2 separate regions of the Homo sapiens genome follow, and region 2 is linked to region 1. Evidence: fine-mapped expression QTL. A gene starts in region 1. The other region holds a variant in brackets. All regions are shown on one strand. Distances are between the middles of the regions.

The links. PIP is the estimated chance that this variant, and not a neighbour inherited with it, causes the effect.
Region 2: its variant is fine-mapped to the expression of LCN10 in subcutaneous fat (GTEx, PIP 0.96).

What each region holds. Positions count from the first base shown.
Region 1 is chr9:136,736,807-136,747,104 of GRCh38, forward strand. LCN10 (lipocalin 10) reads right to left here and starts at 6,134. Exons shown (of 6, transcript NM_001001712.3): 1 at 5,981-6,134; 2 at 5,075-5,214; 3 at 4,446-4,555; 4 at 4,030-4,137; 5 at 3,144-3,242; 6 at 1,364-2,747. The coding sequence starts at 6,097. The coding sequence ends at 2,719. It overlaps LCN6 (lipocalin 6), which reads right to left. Exons shown (of 7, transcript NM_198946.3): 3 at 9,038-9,108; 4 at 8,364-8,474; 5 at 7,834-7,935; 6 at 7,533-7,558; 7 at 7,211-7,336. The coding sequence ends at 7,856. MIR6722 (microRNA 6722) reads right to left here and starts at 10,164; the gene lies at 10,087-10,164. It overlaps LOC100128593 (a long non-coding RNA gene), which reads left to right and starts at 9,355. Exons shown (of 3, transcript NR_033913.1): 1 at 9,355-9,395; 2 at 10,272-10,298. RefSeq lists a silencer at 5,539-5,638.
Region 2 is chr9:136,772,100-136,782,790 of GRCh38, forward strand. It overlaps the pseudogene ATP6V1G1P3. Among named protein-coding and RNA genes, the nearest start is that of LCN15, 13 kb to the left of the region's middle. RefSeq lists an enhancer at 1,658-1,952. The variant A/C (reference allele first, on the strand shown) is at 4,347.

The sequences.
Region 1 (10,298 bases):
TCCCGAGTAGCTGGGATTACAGGTACCTGCCACTATGCCTGGCTAATTTTTGTATTTTAAGTAGAGACGGGGTTTCACCATGTTGGCCAGGCTGGTCTCAAACTTGTGACCTCGTGATCCGCCCGCCTGGGCCTCCCAAAGTGCTGGGATTACAGGCGTGAGCCACCACACCCAGCCTGTATTTTTTTTTTTTTTTTGAGCTAGAGTCTTGCTCTGTCGCCCAGTGGAGTGCAGTGGAGCGATCTCGGTTCACTGCAGCCTCTGCTGCCTGGGTTCAAGCGATTCTCCTGCCTTAGCCTCCCGAGTAGCTGGGATTACAGGCACCCGCCACCGCACCTGGCTGATTTTTGTTTTTTTTAGTAGAGACAGGGTTTCAGCATCTTGGCCAGGCTGGTCTTGAAATCCTGACCTCGTGATACACCCATCTCGGCCTCCCAAAGTGCTGGGATTACAGGTGTGAGCCACCATGCCCGGCTGTATTTTTTTTTTTTTTTTTTTGAGATGGAATTTCACTCTCGTTGCCCAGGCTGGAGTGCAATGGCATGATCTCGGCTCACCACAACCTCCGCCTCCCGGGTTCAAGCTACTCTCCTGCCTCAGCCTCCCGAGTAGCTGGGATTATAGGCATGTGCCACCACGCATGGCTAACTTTGTATTTTTAGTAGAGACAGTTTTTCTCTATGTTGGTCAGGCTGGTCTCGAACCCCTGAACTCAAGTGATTCACCTGGTTCAGCCCCCCAAAGTGCTGGGATTACAGGCGCCCAGCCTTTTATATATATGTCATAATATATACTATATATATATAATATTATATTATATTATATTATATATTATATATATATCTCATATATATATATATAATTTTTTTTGAGACAGAGTCTCGCTCTGTCACCAGGCTGGAGTGCAATGGTGTGATCTCAGCTCACTGCAACCTCCGCCTCCTGGGTTCAAGCAATTCTTCTGCCTCAGCCTCCTGAATAGTTGGGATTACAGGCGTGTACCACCACGTTTGGCTAATTTTTTGTATTTTTTAACAGAGACGGGGTTTCACCATATTGGCCAGGATGGTCTCGATTGCTTGACCTCATGATCCGCCCGTTTCAGCCTCCCAAAGTGCTGGGATTACAGGTGTGAGCCACCATGCCTGGCATATATATATGTTTTTTGAGACAGTCTCACTCTGTTGCCCGGGCTGGAGTGCAGTGGCACGATCCTGACTCACTCAACCTCCCAGGCTCAAGCAATCCTCCCACCTTAGCCTCCTGAGTAGCTAGGACTACAGGCGCCCACCACCACGCTCAGCTAATTTTTGTATTTTTTGTAGAGATGAAGTCTCAACATGTTGCCCGGGCTCCAAACTACTTTTTTGCACACAGGAGAGCTTTATTTCTCATAAGAGATTGCAGCCAGCAGGGCAGCCCTTCTGACAGGCTAGGAAGCGTAGCCTCAGGCCAGAAGCCTGGAACAGACACTTGGAGGGGAGGGACAGAGGGGACAGGAATTTACGCTGAAGGAGATGGCCAAATAGAGATGTTCAATAAGCTTCAGGAGGAGTCATGAATATTCATGAAAGGAGAAGCGTGTACTGGTCCAGCTGAGCAAATTCTCCATGGACTGCCCAGAACCAATCTCTGATCTCTTCTCGGGCCAGAAGGAGGGGCTGACCCCTTACCCCGTCATGGCTGAGGACTCGGGTTCAGGGTTTCTTTGGGATCCCCTTGGCCAGAAGAAGGTCCATTCATTCAGTTGGGGGGTTCATCTCAGACAACCTCCCGTCATCACCCCTTGAGTGAGACCTAAGCCTTCACCGCAGCCTTCGAGGTGCCGTGGTCTGGTGGGCCCCCTCCTGCTCCTCTGTGGCTCTCCCCGCCGCCATTCTGATACTGGCGTCCCCAATCTCCTTGAGAAACCATTTTCTCTACTCTGATGTCTTTTCAGAAGTCACATCCTGTTCTGGGGATGCACCCCTGCTCCTCCAGCCCCACCCAAACTGACTTAACACCCACCACCCTTCCCAGGTCAGCCCAAATGCCACTTCCCCCAGGAAGCTCTCCCTGATGCTGCCCTGGATGGAATGAGTCAGACCTGCTGTTGTGGGGCCCTGGCCGCGCCTAGATACACTTCTAGGGTCTATACTCGAGTATCCAGGTGATCTAGGGTCTATACTCGAGTATCCAGGTGACCACACTGCTGAAGTTGGCTTCTCCTGATCAGGCATCAACTCTGGGACTGCGTTTGCCGATTCTGTTCCCTAACGCAGCCGCAGGGGCCAGCACGCTGCCTGGCACGTCATGGGGGCTCCTCCATGTTGGGTGGATATGCGAACGGCTTCCTGAGAAAGTGCAGGATGTAAAGGAACGCGGAGGGTGGCGGCGGCGTGGAGGGCAGAGGCAAGGCACACGGCGAGGACTGCGTTGGGCCGGCCTGTGGTCTGTTTCACAGCAGACAGGGAATAGCAGCAGCCTGCAGTGTGCTCCAGAAGACAGTGGGGAAGGGGCCTGGCTGACATCTCGCCACCCGGTCAGCCTGTATCCTCCTTCCCCCATCTTTCTGTGATCATAAAGGATCCCTTGAGCCACTTGATTTTCACACTGTCAATGACCTAGAGTCACCAAACACCTCTCAACAAGCCGTGGTCTCCACTTGACATCTGGAACAACGCTCCTCGGGTCTGGGAGGACCACGCGTCGAAAGGGAAGAGCAGAGGACGCTGGCTCTCATGGCAGGATGGTGTGTGTACGGGACGCTGTGGGAGAGGAAAACAGCCACATGTGGGCTGGCTGCTTGGAGGAGACACATGAGCCGTGAACACGTCTCCCCCGGCCGCTCCCTGGTTCCATGCGTGCTCGTCTTGGGCACCACGAGAACACAGCCATGCAGCCCCCGATCCTGCAGCCACAGCCACGGCATCGCCTGGTCGGATGCAGCATCTGCTCCGGACGCCTCTCGCTGTCGGTGCCAGGCCTGCCAGGCCAAGCCCCGATTCTCAGGGGCGGCAGGAGGTGGGAGGCACGTTTGGGCGGATCTTTCAAATGGCACCTTTCAAATGGATCCTTTCATCTCTCCTTCCCCCAATGAATCAGCTCCCCAATGGGACGGGCAGGTAGGGCCAGGAGGGCAAAGGGCTGAGGGCACAGCTTACCGTCTTTCGGGAGGATGACGGCGGCCTTGGAGAGCCCCAGAATGTCACAAGCGTCCATGAATTCCTTCAGACTCTGGAAGCTCGAAACATTCTGCCTATCTGAGGTTGAGATCAGGATCACATCAGAGACTCCAGCTCTGGCCATTTTAGGGTCTGCACCCTGACCCCCATCCCTACCCCAGGAGCTGCTGAAATGTCCTCAGAGCTTAGGCGTGAAGCAGGGGTTGGCCAGGGGAGGACAGCGGCCGCTGGGCCCCTCCCCACTTACGAGGCAGCCAGGCTCGGGAAGCCAGGGTCACCACGCTGTCACCTGGGGAACCCTCTCTGCCTGCAGAGTCCCCTCCAGCCAGCCCCTCAGCTGTGCCCCAGCTTGCTGCACCCTGAGCGTGCCCTGCCTCGACTGAGACCCCAGGACCCCACCTCCCCTCTACCCGTTCCAACCGGGAGGGCCACTCCTTTCCGTGTACCCCAAGTGGTTGGTGTCTAGAATTGGGTTTGTGGCCCTTAACCCACACTGGGTCACTTCCACACCCCTCCATCCCGGGCAGACCCTTACCTGGGACCCCTCCCACGCCTCCTCATCCCCACTGTGTCCCTCACCCAGAACGTTGCACCTGCACCCGCCACCATCCTGGTGGCCTCCGCTCCCCCTGGATGGCCCACCTTTCTCTGCAGCCTCTTCCTGACGTCCCCTATCCTTGCTTCAGCGACCTCCAGGACCTGACTGCTGTGGTCTCGGCTTCCATTGCCCCTGCCCTGACCACCGCCCCAACCCCCACTCTCCCTGCCCGCCTCACCTCCTGCCCGGCCCCCTGTGCCCAGCGCCCCTCTATGCCTCCCTCTGCACCCCCTCCACCATCCTCTGCCATCCGCTGTGCCTGCTCACGGAAGAGCAGCAGGTTCTTGTAGTTTTGGGTTGCACGCCCCAGGCGGAGGTAGACCAAGCCGTAGCTGTAGTCAGTGGACAGCACGTGGAAGGCCTTCACCCCTTTCACTGAAAGAGATGCCCAGAGATGCCCGCTGGTTCCCGGATGGCGTGGCTGTGCCCGCCCACAGCCCTGACCCCTGGTGCCCGAGGCCTCAGAGCCCCCACCCAGGTGCAGGTGTCCAGAGGGACTGAGTGCCCTCCCGGGGCCTCCCCTCCCGGGCCAGGCCGCCCAGCACATGACGTGTGGGCTCTGGGAACACAGCCAGCCTGACGCCTGCCTGCCACGTGCTCTCGGGGACAAGGGGCCTGCTCAAGGCACAGGGGGGTCAGAGGCATATCACGCAGCTCCTCCAGGGCCCAGAGCCCAAGCACACCTCCCTCCTGTCCTTCCCTCGGGCCCGCCGCGTATGCACAGGCGTTCCCAAACACCGGCTTCTTCCCGTCTTTCCTCAGGATCACCTCCTGGGACTGGCACCCCTTCAACCTGGGGCCAAGGCGGGGGCTCAGGCTGCAGACCAGGGAACCCCTCCTCCCGCCTGCCAGCCACCGAGCCCCACCCACACGTCTCGGTCCCGCCCCTGCTCCCGTGGGACCCGGGAAGGTTGGGGCCCCAGGTCCCCAGTTTTTTGCTTCACTATCCAACTCGTGTCAATCTGAGGCTCTGTGGTTTGAGGATTTTCCAATTCGGACTGGGGCCTGTCCCACGGCACGAGAGAAACTCCCAACACCCACCCGTGTGGGGCCCAGGAGCTGCAAGCGGCTTCCTCCCAACACCTACCCATGTGGGGTCCCAAGGTCTGCAGGCAGCTTCCTCCCAACACCCACCCATGTGGGGTCCCAGGGGCTGCAGGTGGCTTCCTCTGAGTTTAGGGGGAGGAAGTGGGGGGACGGTTCTTGTGGAACTTCCAGACAGACAGGCTCCTCCCAGACTCCTTTCCAGCCCCGAGGCAGCTCCCTCCTCCTGGAAGGGGAGACCCTTGCCTGGGGGGCGCTGCCCACTCACCGTCTGAAGGCGAGGAGCACGCGGAGCTGGCCCACTTTGTTCACCTTTACCACGGACGCCCCCAGCTTCCTCTTGTCCCTGGCCGGCAAGAATCCCTGGGCATCAGTGGCAGTGGCCAGAATGTACCAGAACCCTGAAAACTGCGCAGCGGATGTGTGGGCGGGGACAGGAGCTGCCACCGGGGGCTGTCCCCACCCCCGAGGTTCCCAGCTAGAGAACCCAGGAGACAAATGACCCTTCTGTGAGCCGGAGTCCCAGCTCCGCCCAGGTGCCGCCTCGGTCCCGGCCACTCAAGCCCTGGCCACTGGAGCAGGGCTGCAGAGAAGCAGGTGCCCGGCTGGTCAGGGACCCCAGGCAGCAAAGGGCTGGGCTGTGGGCGCCAGCAGGTGGGAGGCCCCCTACCTCAGAGGCCCCGGCTCCTTCCCACATGGCCTCCTGGGGGCTGGGTACTGCTCGGCCACTTCCCTTCCTGCCGGCCCCCGGCCCCCAACTCTGCCTGCTGCCAACCCTAGCGCCCTGGGCACCGCCGTGCCAATGAGTGCTGCTCCCACGGCTCACTCAGCAGGTGCCCGGGCCCTCCCGCTACAGAATATGCCCCGCTTGCTCCACACCCACTCTGCACTCTGGGCGTCTCCCGACCTCCTCGGCCACAGCTCTCTGGGCCCCTCCACCCTGGCCCTCCCTGACCCCCCTGGGCCCCCGAACCCCCTCGAGGCTCCCTGCCTTTGCCCTGCAACTTGCGGGGCCCCTGTGCTGGAGGCTGCAGTGGGAGAGGCCAGGTGGGCAGCGCCCGTGCCTGGAACTGCTGGTAGCCCTGCTCCTGGGCGGCTGCCGGGAGACTGTGCAGGAGCCTGCTCCAGCTCCAGAGCCGGCGCCCGGCTCAGGGACCAGTGGCACATGGCTCACCTTGTTCCAGTTGAGGGCGTGGGACTCCCTGGGGTACCACTCCTGCACCTGGGACCCTGCAGCCAGCACTAGCACCAGCACCAGCACCAGCGCCAGCACCAGCAGCCCCTGCCTCATCTTCACCCTCCTCCCTCAGCCGCCAAGGCCAGTGTTTAAACCTCTCTGGAGCCGCCAGCCTGTGTCGGGAGAGGAGGGAGGGGAGGGAGCGGAGGGAGGCAACAGGTGTGGCCTTGGGCTCTGCTACCCTCTCCCCGCCCAGGGACCACCCCCAGACACTCCAGGGAAGCCGGCACTGCCCCACCTGGTGGTCACTGCTGGCCTGGGCTGCCCTGGCAGACAGAGGCCCCTCTGAGGCCCCAGGACCCTCCTGCCCTCAGTGCCCGGCCTGGGGTCACTGTGTGTGCCCCTGAGACTCATTAAGCCCTGGCCCTCATCCTAGACCTCCCAGGTGACAGGCAAAGGGCTGGTCGTGGCCCTTCTGGGGCAGATGTGGACATGGTGAGCTCTGCGCGGCAGCCACACACACAGCCCCCACCACCTTCTTGAGGGCCTGGCACCAAGCACCTGAGCAGGTGCCGAAGGGCGGGCCGGGGCTGTGTGCCCGTGCCCATGAATGTGTGTGTGTGCATGTGTGGGTGTGTGCTCACATGTGCATGCGTGTGCATGCCCAGCCTTGCAGGTCAAGGCATCTGTGTGCACCTCGCCTCACTCCAGCATGAGCCTCACACAGTCCCCAGCCCCCCATCCAGCCCCGAGACCCCCATGGCCTGTGCTTCTCCCAGGACGGCAGGCAGCGCAGCCCCCCACACCCATCAGAACACAGGAGGACCTGCAGGCTCAGGTGTCTGGGGTCCCTGCCCCTGCCCAGGCAAGAGACACAACCCCAGCCCAGAGAAGCCTGAGCCTGGGGAGTCAGGGGCTGCTCTGAGCCCCACCAGCCACCTCTCTCTTGTCCTGGGCAGTCCTTGGAGCCTCTGGCACCCCAGCTGCGGTCCTGGTGGAGCTCACTGCTGGCTTCCTCCCAGGCTGTGTCCTCTGACCAGCCCCCGCCTCTGAGCCCGGGCCTGAGTTTGGGTGTCTGAAGACCCAGAGGGGCTCTGGCAAGGGACTGGGTTGGGCACGCGTCTTCTTTGCAGCTGGCTCTATGGTTCTGTGGCTTGGCCCTTGGTGACGACCCCCGCCATCCTCCCCGCAATTCCCCGGCTGGCCCCCAGTCAAAAGCATCCTTGGTTTGCTGTGGAATCGCTTTATTCTGAGCTGGTGCTGGGCCCCGGGAGCCGCTGAGCGAGGTGGGTGGACACTGGCCGAGGTCACAGGACCCTGTGGGCGCCATCCCTACTGGGGACGCAGCACTCACTGAAAACCAAGAGGAGTGTGAGGGGGCCCAGCCCACCATGGAGGCTCCTCCACACCCTCAGCTGCCTTAGAGACAGTGGAGCCATGAACCCCGTGGGCTTGGGCAGAGGGTCCTCCCACCCACTGTGCGTAGGGTGGCCTCCCCCACCCCCTTCCCCCAAGAGAGCCCAGGGTGAGGCTCAGGATGGCGGCTTACCAGAAGGATCTTGTGAGCACAGGTGACTAGAAGGGGAGGCAAGACTGGCTGTGAAAAAGGACTGAGCCCCCCAGCACCCCAGGGCCCCACCCACAAGACTCGCCTGCCGTGGGGACAAGACCCCCAGGCCTGACTTTGGGCAGGGGCAGGTGAAGACCCCCTCAGCCTGCCTGACTCCTTCAGGGCGACTGAGTCAGGCAGAAGCCAGAATCAACCCCAGGGTCTCTGTCACCCCATCACGCCCTGTGGGCTCCAGAACTTGCCCCAAGCCTCCCCCGAGGCTGCTCCGGTGGACACTCACGGTCCTTCTGCAGCTGGGCCTGCTACTGTGACAGGAAGCCCAGGCTCCTGCTCCACTTGGTGAAGAGCCCCATGGCCTCCTGGCTGGCTGTCTCCGTCAGACCTGGGGGCACCAGGGCAGTGCAGGGGGAAGCAACCTCTGAGAGCTGGGGAGGGGCCGGGGAGGGGCTGGGAAGGGTCAGGAAGGAGGCCACCTGCCCTGGGATGCTGGCCCCGGTCCTTCCAAAGCCACCTCCAGTGCAGCGAGCCTCAAGGTGGGGGAACTTGGCCTGCATGTGGTCCTGTGCGGCCCACCCACCACACAGCTCCCCACATGGCCCCCGAGCGGCCCACTCACCACACAGCTCCCCATGTGGCCCCAAGCGGCCCACTCACCACACAGCTCCCCACATGGCCCCCGAGCGGCCCACTCACCACACAGCTCCCCACGCGGCCCCCAAGCGGCCCACGCACCACACAGCTCCCAACGTGGGCCCCGAGTGGCCCACGCACCACACAGCTCCCTACGTGGGCCCCGCACAGCACACTTACTGTACAGCTCCACGGTGTTGAAGGGCTCGTCCCCGAACTCCAGCTGAGTGAAGATGATGGCATAGTCTCTGAAGTTGGTGGCCAGCACCCAGAGCTCCAGCACGCCTATTGCTAGGAAACAAAACCCCCCGCCTCAGGGGAGGGCAGCTGCTGTATCCATCCAGGGGCCGCTGAGCTGATGCTGGCCACAGGGACAGAGGGGCCAATTCAAGTGAGAGCCCCCCTCCCCAGGAGACCCCTCCAAGCACACCCAGAGCCCCCAAGCTTTGTCCCCCACCCCCGACCCCACCTGGTGCCAGCATCAAGGGGCTTTCAGACACTGACGGACAGACAGACAAGCACTGCCCCAGCCTGTCCCAGGTGTGAACGAGGAGCGGCTGGGTCACACCAGCCCAGCCCTGTACCTGTAGACAGCCACTAAACAGGCCCCTCGCCCTCTGCACCTATGGGGACCTTGGCTGGACCTCACTGGTGTCTGAGCCTGCTGGGAACAAGGTTCCAATCCTCTGTCCAGGGGCTTCTCTTCACCCTCAGGATGGGCAGCAATCCCAAGACCAGAACCTGTAGCCTCCTGGCTCTCGGGAGCGGAGTCAGCCCTCCGTCCCTGCCCGCAGGGGGCCTGGGGATGCTGCAGGGAAGAACGGCCTGGGTGAGGCCGTGGCCGTCAGACTCACAGGGATTCTCAAACACCCATCCGGAGTTTCGCTTTATCAGGTCCATGACACTCTGGTCACACCCTCCCAGCCTGGAAAAGAAGGGGCCTGTCACCCACTCAGGGTCAAGACCCCGGGGCCCGGTGAGAGGAGACGGAGCTCAGGAGTCCAGGCCAGGCCAGCCAGCAGTGAGGCCAGAGCTTCCATCTTCTGCCAGATGCCCCGATGCCCGGAAACCTGTTCTCGGAGAGTGGACGGCGTGGGAGTCCTGAGAGGGGCGGACACTCCCATTCACTTCCTGAGAGATCCTCAGTGCCAGATCTCCACCAGGAACGCTGAATGCTGCTGAGGACACAACAGGAGACTCGACAGACGGGAGGTTCGCCCGCGACTCGGGGGAAAGATGGGGTGGGGTGGGGGTTCGCCCGTGACTCAGGGGAAGGATGGGGCGGGGTGGGGGTTCGCCCGCAACTCAGGGGAAGGATGGGGCGGGGTGGGGGTTCGCCCGTGACTCAGGGGAAGGATGGGGTGGGGTGGGGGTTCGCCTGCGACTCAGGGGAAGGATGGGGCGGGGTGGGGGTTTGCCTGCGACTCGGGGGAAGGGGCCGGCGCTCCCTAAGTGGTCAGTCCCCAGAGTGAGCAAAACCCAGCAAAGGTGCAATGGTGTTTGCCAAGGAAGGAAACTGAGGCTGAGTCCATGCGGGAGGAACAGCAAGAAGAACTAGGAAAGCCACGTGGGAGCTGCCACCTCAGCCTGGAGCCCCTTGGTCCCAGCTCGCCCTGAGGCCAGGCCTGGCCCGGGGGGTGCAGTGGGGCCCCTGCCCATACCCTGCAGGCGCAGGTGCAGGGGGAAGGCACGCTGGTGAGGAGGGCAGGTTCTTCTCTCTGGGCCCCGTACCTGGCTCAGTGGTTCAGGCCTGGGCTCTGTCGCCAGCCTGCCAGGGGGTAGACACCCACCACGCCACCCAGCAGGCCACTCTTCTGTGAAGGGAGGCGGGCACCGACTCCTGCCCCAGCACGGCTACCCCCACAGCCCGGCTGCCCTGTAGGTGTCCCCTGTGTAGCACGGCCGCCCCACAGCCTGGCCCACCCGACCCCTGCACGCCGCCACCAGCCATGCATGTGGTCGGGTGCGCCTGCCTGAGGCCACAAGGCCAGTCTGGCCAACAGCGTCCATGACCATATTGTTTGGGGATTTATGTTATGAAAGAACCAGTGGTTCTTAGGTCCGAATGCATTATCCTCCTTTAAACAGAATTCCCGAAAAAGGCCTGCTGAGAGG
Region 2 (10,691 bases), 35 kb after region 1:
TCCCCATCTACCTGCTCAAGGACTGGCCCGTTTGCTGTCTTGGGTGGAAGGGGCAGTCCTGAACTCTCTTCTTCAAAGTGACAGTTTAATTCTCCACCCCTTAAATCTTGGCGGGAGGGGCACCTTGTGACTGCTTTTGTAACCGAACACACATTCAGCTGCTCAAAAGCCAAAACTCAAGAGACAGGAGTTGGTGGGAAGAAAGCAATTTATTCAGACAGCCAGCAAACCAAGAAGATGGTGGACTAGAGTCCTAATGTGCCATCTCAGGTGGGTACAAATTTCAAGCTCTTTTTATGTTAAGGGCAGAGAAAGAGAAGGTGGTTAGGATCAAGAAGTGATCTACAGTCGGGTGCGGTGGCTCACGCCTGTAATCCCAACACTCCCACTTTGGGAGGCCGAGGCGAGCAGATCATCTGAGGTCGGGAGTTCGAGACCAGCCTGACCAACATGGAGAAACACCGTCTCTACTAAAAATACAAAATTAGCCGGGCATAGTGGCGCATGCCTGTATTCCCAGCTACTCTGGAGGCTGAGGCAGGAGTATCACTTGAACACAGGAGGCAGAGGTTGCAGTGAGCTGAGATGGTGCCATTGCACTCCAGCCTGGGTGACAGAGCAAGACTCCGTCTCAAAAAGAGGTGACCTACATCTGGGTGGGGTGGCTCAAACCTGTAATCCCAGCACTTTGGGAGGCCAGGGCAGGTGGACCACTTGAGCTCACAAGTTCGAGACCAGCCTGGGCAACATGGTAAAACCCTGTCTCTACAAAAAATACAAAAATTAGCCTAGCATGGTGGTGTGCACCTGTAGTCCCAGCTACTCAGAAGGCTGAGGTTGGAGGATGACTTGAGCCCAGGAGGTGGAGGTTGCAGTGAGCCGAGATGGCACCACTGCACTCCAGCCTGGGTGATAGACCTTGTCAAAAAAAAAAAAAAAAAAAAAAGAAGTGGCCTATGAGCACAGACATCTCAGACATCTGGGCACCAGCAAGTCTGAGGAGGTTGGGAACTTCTTTGTCCTTAGTCAGGTCGCAATGCTTTTACACATATTTAATAAAATATTGTTAGTTGTTTATATACTTTCAACCTCAGAGTTAGTTTTTAAAACTACATGATTACTGTTTTTCCATATTATCTCAGTGCTCCGAAATTATCCTAGCCTACGTGCAGGATGGGTAAAGGCCCCTTGAACACAAACGGAGTGAGTTATGTTAGTTCTACTGTTTTACTGTTATACTTTGGCCAATTGAATACAGTGGAAGGGATGCTGTGCCAGTTCGGGAGTGGCCTGGAAACTGCTGGAAACTGCTAAACTGGCCTGGAGACTGCTACTTCCTGTGTCTTCGAAGTCCACTGGCACATGAGAAGTACAACTGCTCAGAGGCAGCCATGTTGAAAGGAAGCCCAAGCAGCCACATGAACACCCTGGTTTACAGGCCAGCAGATCCCCCAGCAACAGCCATCATTAGCTGCCAGCTACTTCCTGCAACAATGTGATCCTAGATTCAGCAAAACAAAACAAATCCTGTTGCTGGTTTCTCCTGCTCAGGCCTGGAGGCATCCAGACCTCACCAGAACAGACACACAATATAGTGGAACTGATGTGTAGACGCAGTCAACACACAAGAACAACCATCACCCGGGGAGTCAACCCTGACCCCAGGGCGGGGGAGACCAGAAACTCTCTCCCATGTCCTCTCTCCCCTCGGCCTCAGGAGGGACCCATGTGGGCACTGGCATCCAGGATGAAGACTACACTTCCCAGCATCCCTTGCAGCAAGCAGTGGCCATGTGACCAGGCTGTGGCCAATGGGGAGGCGAGGCCTGTGCACAGCGGCTGCCTTTAGAGGAAGGAAGTTTTGTGCCCTGTTGTCCCCTTCTCCTCTCCCTGCTGGCTGGCAGGAGACAGGGTGGACTCTCAGGGGGAAGCTACACCCTAAGGAAGTCAGAACAGCAAGATGGAAGGAGGCTAAGACCCTAAAAACTGCATAGAGAAGAATCTCCCGACTGCCTTGGACTTTCATGTGAAGGGAATGAACCTCTGTCTTAGTTAAGCCACCGTGATTCAGGGTCCTTGTCACATTCACCGAGGCTGTAACCTAATTGGTAGAAAGAACAGGAGCGGGAGGGGAGATGGAGTCAGAGAGGCAGGCAGAGGTCAGATCACATCAGGCCTGCAGGTCAAGATGGAGGAAGAAACAGGCAACATAGGACTCAAGGACCACACCTGCTCCCAGGTGAAGGGATTTTGCCGTGGGTGCCCCTCCCTGTCTGCTGGAGAAAGCTAATTTGACCCACTTCCCTTTAGGACTTTGCAAGATGCACATCACAGTCACAGGTACTTGTCTCCTAACAGTCCTTTCAGGGGAACTGCCCCACCCCTAATTAACCCAGCCTCAGGTATTCCTTTATAGCAATGCAGGTGGACTGACACATATCTTTAGTGTCGTGAGACTGTGACAAGAGCAGGAAAGAATCCTCGTGTGCATCCCTCTGAGCGTTGGGAGCTGTTGTTGTAGCAGCTGCTGTTACTCATCCTGACTGATACACAGACACCGCCAGTAGCCCTCTCTCCTGGAAACGCCATGTAAGTTAGGTGAGGCATGACCCAGGAAAGCTCTCAAGCTGACTTCCCTCCTACCCTCAGGGCTGCGGAGCAGGTCCCTCATTATCTAAGATCAGTTGGACACCTGTACGCCTGCCATGGCCTGGAGCAAGTGCCAGGCACTGTGGATGATGAATATGAGAACAGCATCAACCCTGCCCTCCTGCAGGTGACTGGCCAGACCGTGGGATTCCTCCACAACCAACTCTGCACACACAGCTCACTCATGTCGAGCAGGAAGCGGAGCTTGGGATCACCTGACCCGCTCCCCTCACCTGGGAGCAGCTTATATAGAAGCGCCTGTAGTTCACACAGGGCTGATGGTTCCAGCTTCCAAGACACCCCGAGGCCTCCTGGGCTGCTTGGTAATCAGACCAGGTACGTGCAAAGAGGCATGGCTCTTTATTTTCACTTAATTGAGAAAACCACATCAGCAAAGAGAGCATCCAAGCTCAGTGGCCCTTTCTCCCCACAACAGTGACCATTAACCTTTTAAAAGATGCTTTATGGGTTATTTGCCAAACCTCCTTCTTCATGCCGAGGTGTGATGAGGCTCATAAATAGGCCAGACTTGGGAGGGGACAAATGCGAGCAATGCCACCAATGAGAGGCCCAGGCAGAGCCGGTCTCGGGGCTGCCCAGCCATGTGTGCACCAAACATGGATGTGTCAGTGGCCGTGCCAGGAGTCAAGCTCTTGGCCAGGGGCCTCTGGGTGGCCAAGGCCAAGTCTTGTTCAAAAGGTGAGTTCAACTGAGCCAACCATGGCAGAAATACATAAGGGAGACCCCATGCCTCCTCTGGGTAAAATCCCCTGCTAATCCCACCTGGCTCAGAGGAGGAGCCATGTCCTCACAGCAGCCTGCAGTCCCCGCCTGACTCAGCCTCCTCTCGGCTCTGATTCTCCATGCCCCTCTACCCCTCTCTGTCTCCTCTCCCACCCCAGAAAGGGGATCCTGCAGGTTCATCCTGGTGGATTCAAACCCATCTTTGCCACACAGATAGTCATCAGAATGAATGGGCATAATCTATAAAGAGTCCTCTTGAAAAAGAAAAAGGCAGGCCAGGTGCGGTGGCTCACATCTGTAATCCCAGCACTTTGGGAAGCTGAGGCAGGCAGGTCACCTGAGGTCAGGAGTTCCAGACCAGCCTGGCCAACATGGTGAAACTCCACCTCTACTAAAAATACAAAAATTGGCTGGGCATGGTGGCTCACGCCTGTAATCCCAGCTACTCTGGAGGCTGAGGCAGGAGAATCGCTTGAACCCGGAAGGCAGAGGCCACAGTGAGCGAAGATTGTGCCATTGCTCTCCAGTCTGGATGACAGAATGAGACTCCGTCTCAAATAATAATAATAAAAGAAAAAGGTGCCAGGTGCTGTGGCTCACGCCTGTAATCCCAGCACTTTGGGAGGCCGAGGTGGGCGGATCACGATGTCAGGAGATCAAGACCATCCTGGCTAACATGGTGAAACCCCGTCTCTACTAAAAATACAAAATAATGGTAATAATAATAATTAGCCAGGCGTGGTGGCGGGCGCCTGTAGTCCCAGCTACTCTGGAGGCTGAGGCAGGAGAATGGCATGAACCCGGGAGACAGAGCTTGCAGTGAGCCGAGATCGTGCCACGGCACTCCAGCCTGGGCGACAGAGCAAGACTCCATCTCAAAAAAAAAAAATGAAAAAATAAAAAGGCAAAAATTCAGACAACTAAACGGAAACTGGGCAAAAGAGTTGAACCAG[A/C]CCTGGCTGGGCACAGTGACTCACACCTGTAATCCCAGCACTTTGGGAGGCCGAGGCGGGCGGATCACGAGGTTAAGAGTTCGAGACCAGCCTGGCCAATATTGTGAAACCCTCTCTCTACTAAAAATACAAAAAATTAGCTGGGCGTGGTGGTGCATGCCTGTAGTCCCAGCTACTCAGGAGGCTGAGGAAGAAAAATTGCTTGAACCCAGGAGGTGGAGCTTGCAGTGAGCCAAGATTGTGCCACTGCACTCCAGCCTAGGTGACAGAGTCAGACTCCGTCTCAAAAAAAAAAGAGTTGAACCAGCCCTTCACAGAAAAGGAAATGTGAAGGAAAGGGCAATAAAAACATGAAGAGGGTCTCAGCTAACAGGATGAGGATCACGTGTCACCCACCAGACAGCAAAAATCCCACAGCCCAATCAATGCAAGGATTGGGAAGAATGGAGAGCAATAGGAACCCTCAGCCACTGCTAAGAATGATGTGAAATTGTTTTTGGTATCCCTGCATATGAAAGGGTGTGTTTTGTGGGTTATGAGGAAAATTACATTTCTTACCTGGGATGAAATTGTAAAAACTGAAAGCTACTGACCAGGAGAAATGTGCACCTGTGTACAAAAGAAAGGCCCAAGAGCATTCCCAGCAGCACAGTCCTCAGGGCCCCAGCCTGGCTGAACTCTCGTCCACAGGAAGATGAAGACATTTCCCATGCTCCCCTCAGACGGCGGGAGATCGTGCAGCAATGAAAAAGACTCATGTTAGTGTGGGTGGGTCTCAGGAAGAGAATGGAGACGGGAGATCACGCAGCAATGAAAATGAACCATGTCAATGTGGGTGGGTCTCAGGGAGAGAATGGAGGACAGAAATAGACATCAAGCAGATACTCAGACCCAACGCAGTGTAGGAGCAGCCACCCAGGAGAATTCCTTCACATCAAAGTTCAAAACTACAGCCGAGGCAACAGAGCCCTGTCTCAAAAAGACAACAGAAAGTTGAAACAGAAACTAGAACGAGTCTGAGGGTCATGGAGCTGGAGACCCGGGGAGGAGTCAGTGCTGCTGTTCCAGTTTGCGGGTCGTGGATCTGGAGACCCAGGGTGGAGCTGGTGCTGCTGTTGTAGTTTGACGGTCATGGAGCTGGAGACCTCGGGAGGGTCCATTTGAAGAGCAGCACCGGCTCCTCCCTGGGCCTCAGGCTCCACGACCTTCAGACTTTAAAAGCGGTAATACCGGCTTCTCCCTGGGTTTCCAGCTATATAACCCTCAGACATGAAGCGCAACAGCACCGGCTCCTCCCCGCCTCCAGTTCCATGACCCTCAAACTACAACAGCAGCACCAGCCTCTCCCCAGGTCTCCAGCTCCACCACCTTCAAACTAGAACAACACCACCAGCTTCTCCCTGGGTCTCCAGTTCCACAACGCTCAAACTAGAACAACACCAGCTTCTCCCCAGGTCTCCAGCTCCACAGCCCTCAAACTAGAACAACGCTGGCACCTCCCTGATTCTCCAGTTCCATGACCCTATAATTAGAACAACACCAGCTCCTTCTCTGGTCTCCAGCTCCACAACCCTCAAACTAGAATAACACCAGCTCCTCTCCAAGTCTCCAGTTCCATGACTCTCAAACTAGAACAACACCAGCTCCTCCTCAGTTCTCCAGCTCCACGACCCTCAAACTAGAACAACACTGGCTCCTCCCCAGGCCTCCAGCTCCATGACCCTTAAACTAGAACACCACCACCAGCTTCTCCCCTGGTCTCCAGCTCCATAACCCTCAAACTAGAAAACACTGGCACCACCCCGATTCTCCAGCTCCACTAACCTCAAACTAGAACAACACCAGCTCCTCCTCAAATCTCCAGGTCCAGGACCCTCAAACTAGAAAAACACTGGCTCCTCCCCAGGCCTCCAGCTCTGCAATCCTCAAACTAGAACAACACCATCTCCTCCCCAGGTCTCCAGCTCTGTGAACCTCAAACTAGAACAACACCACCAGCTCCTCCCAGGTCTCCAGCTCCCCAACCCTCAAACTGGATCAACACCAGCTCCTCCAGGGTCTCCAGCTCCCCGACCCTCAAACTGGATCAACACCGGCTCCTCCAGGGTTTCCAGCTCCCCAACCCTCAAACTGGATCAACACCGGCTCCTCCTCAGTCTCCAGCTCCGTGACCCTCAAACTGGATCAACACCGGCTCCTCCTCAGTCTCCAGCTCCCCGACCCTCAAACTGGATCAACACCAGCTCCTCCAGGGTCTCCAGTTCCCCGACCCTCAAACTGGATCAACACCAGGTCCTCCAGAGTCTCCAGCTCCCCGACCCTCAAACTGGATCAACACCAGCTCCTCCAGGGTCTCCAGCTCCCCAACTCTCAAACTGGATCAACACCGGCTCCTCCAGGGTCTCCAGCTCCCCGACCCTCAAACTGGATCAACACTGGCTCCTCCAGGGTCTCCAGCTCCCCGACCCTCAAACTGGATCAACACTGGCTCCTCCTCAGTCTCCAGCTCCGTGACCCTCCAACTGGATCAACACCAGCTCCTCCAGGGTCTCCAGCTCCCCGACCCTCAAACTGGATCAACACTGGCTCCTCCCCAGGCCTCCAGCTCCGTGACCCTCAAACTAGATCAACACCAGCTCCTCCAGGGTCTCCAGCTCCCCAACGCTCAAACTAGATCAACACTGGCTCCTCCAGGGTCTCCAGCTCCCCAATGCTCAAACTAGATCAACACCAGCTCCTCCAGGGTCTCCAGCTCCCCAACCCTCAAACTAGATCAACACCGGCTCCTCCTCAGGTCTCCAGCTCCCCGACCCTCAAACTGGATCAACACCAGCTCCTCCAGGGTCTCCAGCTCCCCAATGCTCAAACTAGATCAACACCGGCTCCTCCTCAGGTCTCCAGCTCTGCGACCCTCAAACTAGAACAACAACACCATCTCCTCCCCGTCTCTCCTACTTGCATGTCCATTTATAGGCTCTCTGCAAGAAGAAAAATATGGCTTTTTTTGCCCGAACCTGCAGGCAGTCAGACCTTATGGTTGTCTTCCCTTGTTCCCTAAACATTGCTGTTATTCTGTTCTTTTTCAAGGTGCACTGATTTCATATTGTTCAAACATACATGTTTTACAATCAATTTGTACAGTTAACACAATTATCACAGTGGTCCTGAGGTGACTTACATCCTCAGTTTACAAAGATAACAGGAGTAAGTGACTAAAGTAAAGACAGGCATAAGAAATTGTAAAAGTATTATTTGGGAACTGACAAATGTCCATGAAATCTTCACAATTTGTGTTCTTCTGCTGCGGCTCCAGCTGGTCCCTCCATTCGGGGTCCCTGACTTCCTGCAACATGCTGGCATGCACCTGTAGTCCCAGCTACTCAGGAGGCTGAGGCAGAGAATTGTTTGAACCTGGGAGGTAGAGGTTGCAGTGAGCCAAGATCGCTGCCACTACACTCCAGCCTGGGCCACAGAGCGAGACTCCGTCTCAAAAAAAAAAGAAAGAACTGGAGGCTGACACAGGCCAAAGAAGCAGCTCAGGCTGAAATTGAACAGTACCACCTGCAGAGGGAGAAAGAGTTGAAAGCCAAGGAAGCTGCGGCACTGGAATCCATGGCACTGGCAGCACCAAAGTGGAGAAGGAGACCCAGGAGAAGATGACCATCCTCCAGACCTACTTTCCTCACAACAGGGATGAAGTCTGGGATAACCTCTTGGCTTTTGTCTGTGACATTCAGCCAGAAATGCATGAAAACTACCGCATAAATGGATAGAAGAAGAGAAGCACCTGTTCTTTGGATAGGCATTTTAGATGCCCTCATGAAATATGAAGCTTTAGCATAGCTCTAGTTATAGTCTTATGAAATTATGAAGGGGACCTGCCCCTCCACACCTGCGGGTATTTCTCACCAGGTGGAGATGAGAGACTGAGAAAACAAATAAGACACAAAGACAAAGTATAAGGGAAGAAAAGTGGGCCCAGGGGACCGGCACTCAGCAAGTGAGGAACTGCACCGACGCTGGTCTCTGAGTTCCTCAGTATTTATTGATCACTAGCTCTACTATCTCGGTGAGGGGGACATGGCAGGACTATAGGGTAATGGTGGGCAGAGGGTCAGCAGGAAAACATGAGCAAAGGACTCTGTGTCATAAATAAGTTTAGGGAAAGGTGCTGTGCCTGGATGTGCACGTAGGCCAGGTTTATGTCTGACTTTACACAAACCTCTCAGTGCAGTAAAGAGCAGTATTGCCGCCAGCATGTCTCACCTCCAGCCATGGGGCAGTTTTCTCCTATCTCAGTAAACAGAATGTATGATTGGGCTTTACACCAAGACATTCCATTCCCAGGGATGAGCAGGAGACAGATGCCTTCCTCTTATCTCAACTGCAAAGAGGCCTTCCTCTTTCACTAATCCTCCTCAGTACAGACCCTTTATGGGTGTCAGCCTGGGGGACGATCAGGTCTTTCCCTTCCCATGAGGCCATATCTCAGGCTGTCTCAGTGGGGGGAGACCTGGACAATACGCAGGCTTTCTTGGGCAGAGGTCCCTGCGGCTTTCCGCAGTGCACTGTGTCCCTGGTTAATGGAGAATGGAGAATGGCGATGACTTTTACCAAGCATACTGCCTGCAAACACATTGTTAACAAAGCACATGCTGTATAGCCCTAAATCCCTCAAACCTTGAGTTAACACAGCACATGTTTCTGTGAGTACAGGGTTGGGGCTAAGGTTACAGATTAACAGCATGTCAAAGCAGAAGAATTTTTCTTAATACAGATCAAAATGGAGTTTCTTATGTCTTCCTTTTTCTACATAGACACAGTAACAGTCTGACCTCTCTTTCCCCCACATTTCCCCCTTTTCTTTTTGACAAAACCACCATCATCATCATGGCCCATTCTCGATGGTCGCTGTCTCTTCGGAGCTGTTGGGTACAGCTGCAGACTGACAACAGACAGAAGCATTAACACGAAATTTACGATAGCGGAACTTCCGAGGGTTTTAACCCAAGTGACAGGGTTAAGACTTGTGAGGCCGGCTGGGCACGGTGGCTCACGCCTGTAATCCCAGCACTTTGGGAGGCCAAGGTGGGTGGATCACGAGGTCAGGAGATTGAGACCATCCTGGCTAACAGAGTGAAACCCTGTCTCTACTAAAAAAATACAAAAAAATTGGCTGGGCGTGGTGGCAGGCGCCTGTAGTCCCAGCTACTCAGGAGGCTGAGGCAGGAGAATGGCATGAACCTGGGAGGTGGAGCTTGCAGTGAGCCGAGATAGTGCCACTGCACTCCAGCCTGGGCGACAAAGTGAGACTCCGTCTAAAAAAAAGAGAGAGAGAGAGACTTGTGAGGCCATCAGCAACTCCCGCAATTGCCTCAGTTCCTGGTACCAAATTTAAATGGGCTTTTGATGCTTCAAAAATTTGTTCTTTTAATATCACCATTCTGTTCATCTGGCGAGTCAATGGTGCTCAATTGCGGTGTCTCTGTCTCCACGGAGGCGTTTTTCTTTGCATCTCCGATGGGTTCATTGTAGAACTTTAAATGTCTAGTGGGTATCCAAACAGGAAGCTGATTTTCTCCTGGTGAAACACAAGCAAAACCTCTCCCTCACGTTACCACCTTCCCTATTTCCCATGTCTTATTTTTGTTGTCTTTCCACCAAATTAGTTTTCCTTCATGTGGGCTGTTCTTTTTACCAGTAAGATGTTGTTCTGCAGAGGTAGTAGTCTGATTTCTATAAAGGTTTAAAAAATTTAAAGTATAGAGTGCTAGGTTAAGTTGCATCTGAAGAGTGATATACTCCGTACTGTCTCCCTCTTTTCTTTGTTTAACCAATTGAGTTTTCGGTGTTCTATTAGTTCTTTCAACTATGGCCTGTCATTGGGAATTATAGGGAATTCCTGTTGTACGTGCAATTTTCCACTGATTCAAGAATTTTTGGAAAGCTTTACTATAGTATCCTGGTCCATTGTCAGTTTTAATTTTTTCTGGAACTCCTATGACAGCAAAAAAAGAAAAATAAATGTCTTTTAACATGGGAAGTACTTTCTCCTGTCTGTCAGGTTGCCCACATGAAATGTGAATAAGTATCAACTGTTACATGAACATATGACAATCTTCCAAATGAAGGAACATGCGTGACATCCATTTGCCATAACGCATTAGGACGCAGACCTCTGGGATTAACTCCTGCCTCCTGAGTGGGCAGGTGTAGGGCTTGACACCAGGTGCAGTGTTGTGCAATACTTTTTGCCTGTTTCCATGTGATATTAAATTTATTTTTTAAACCTGTTGCATTTACATGACTCAAAGCATGAAGTTCTTGTGCTTTTGTGAATGCAGA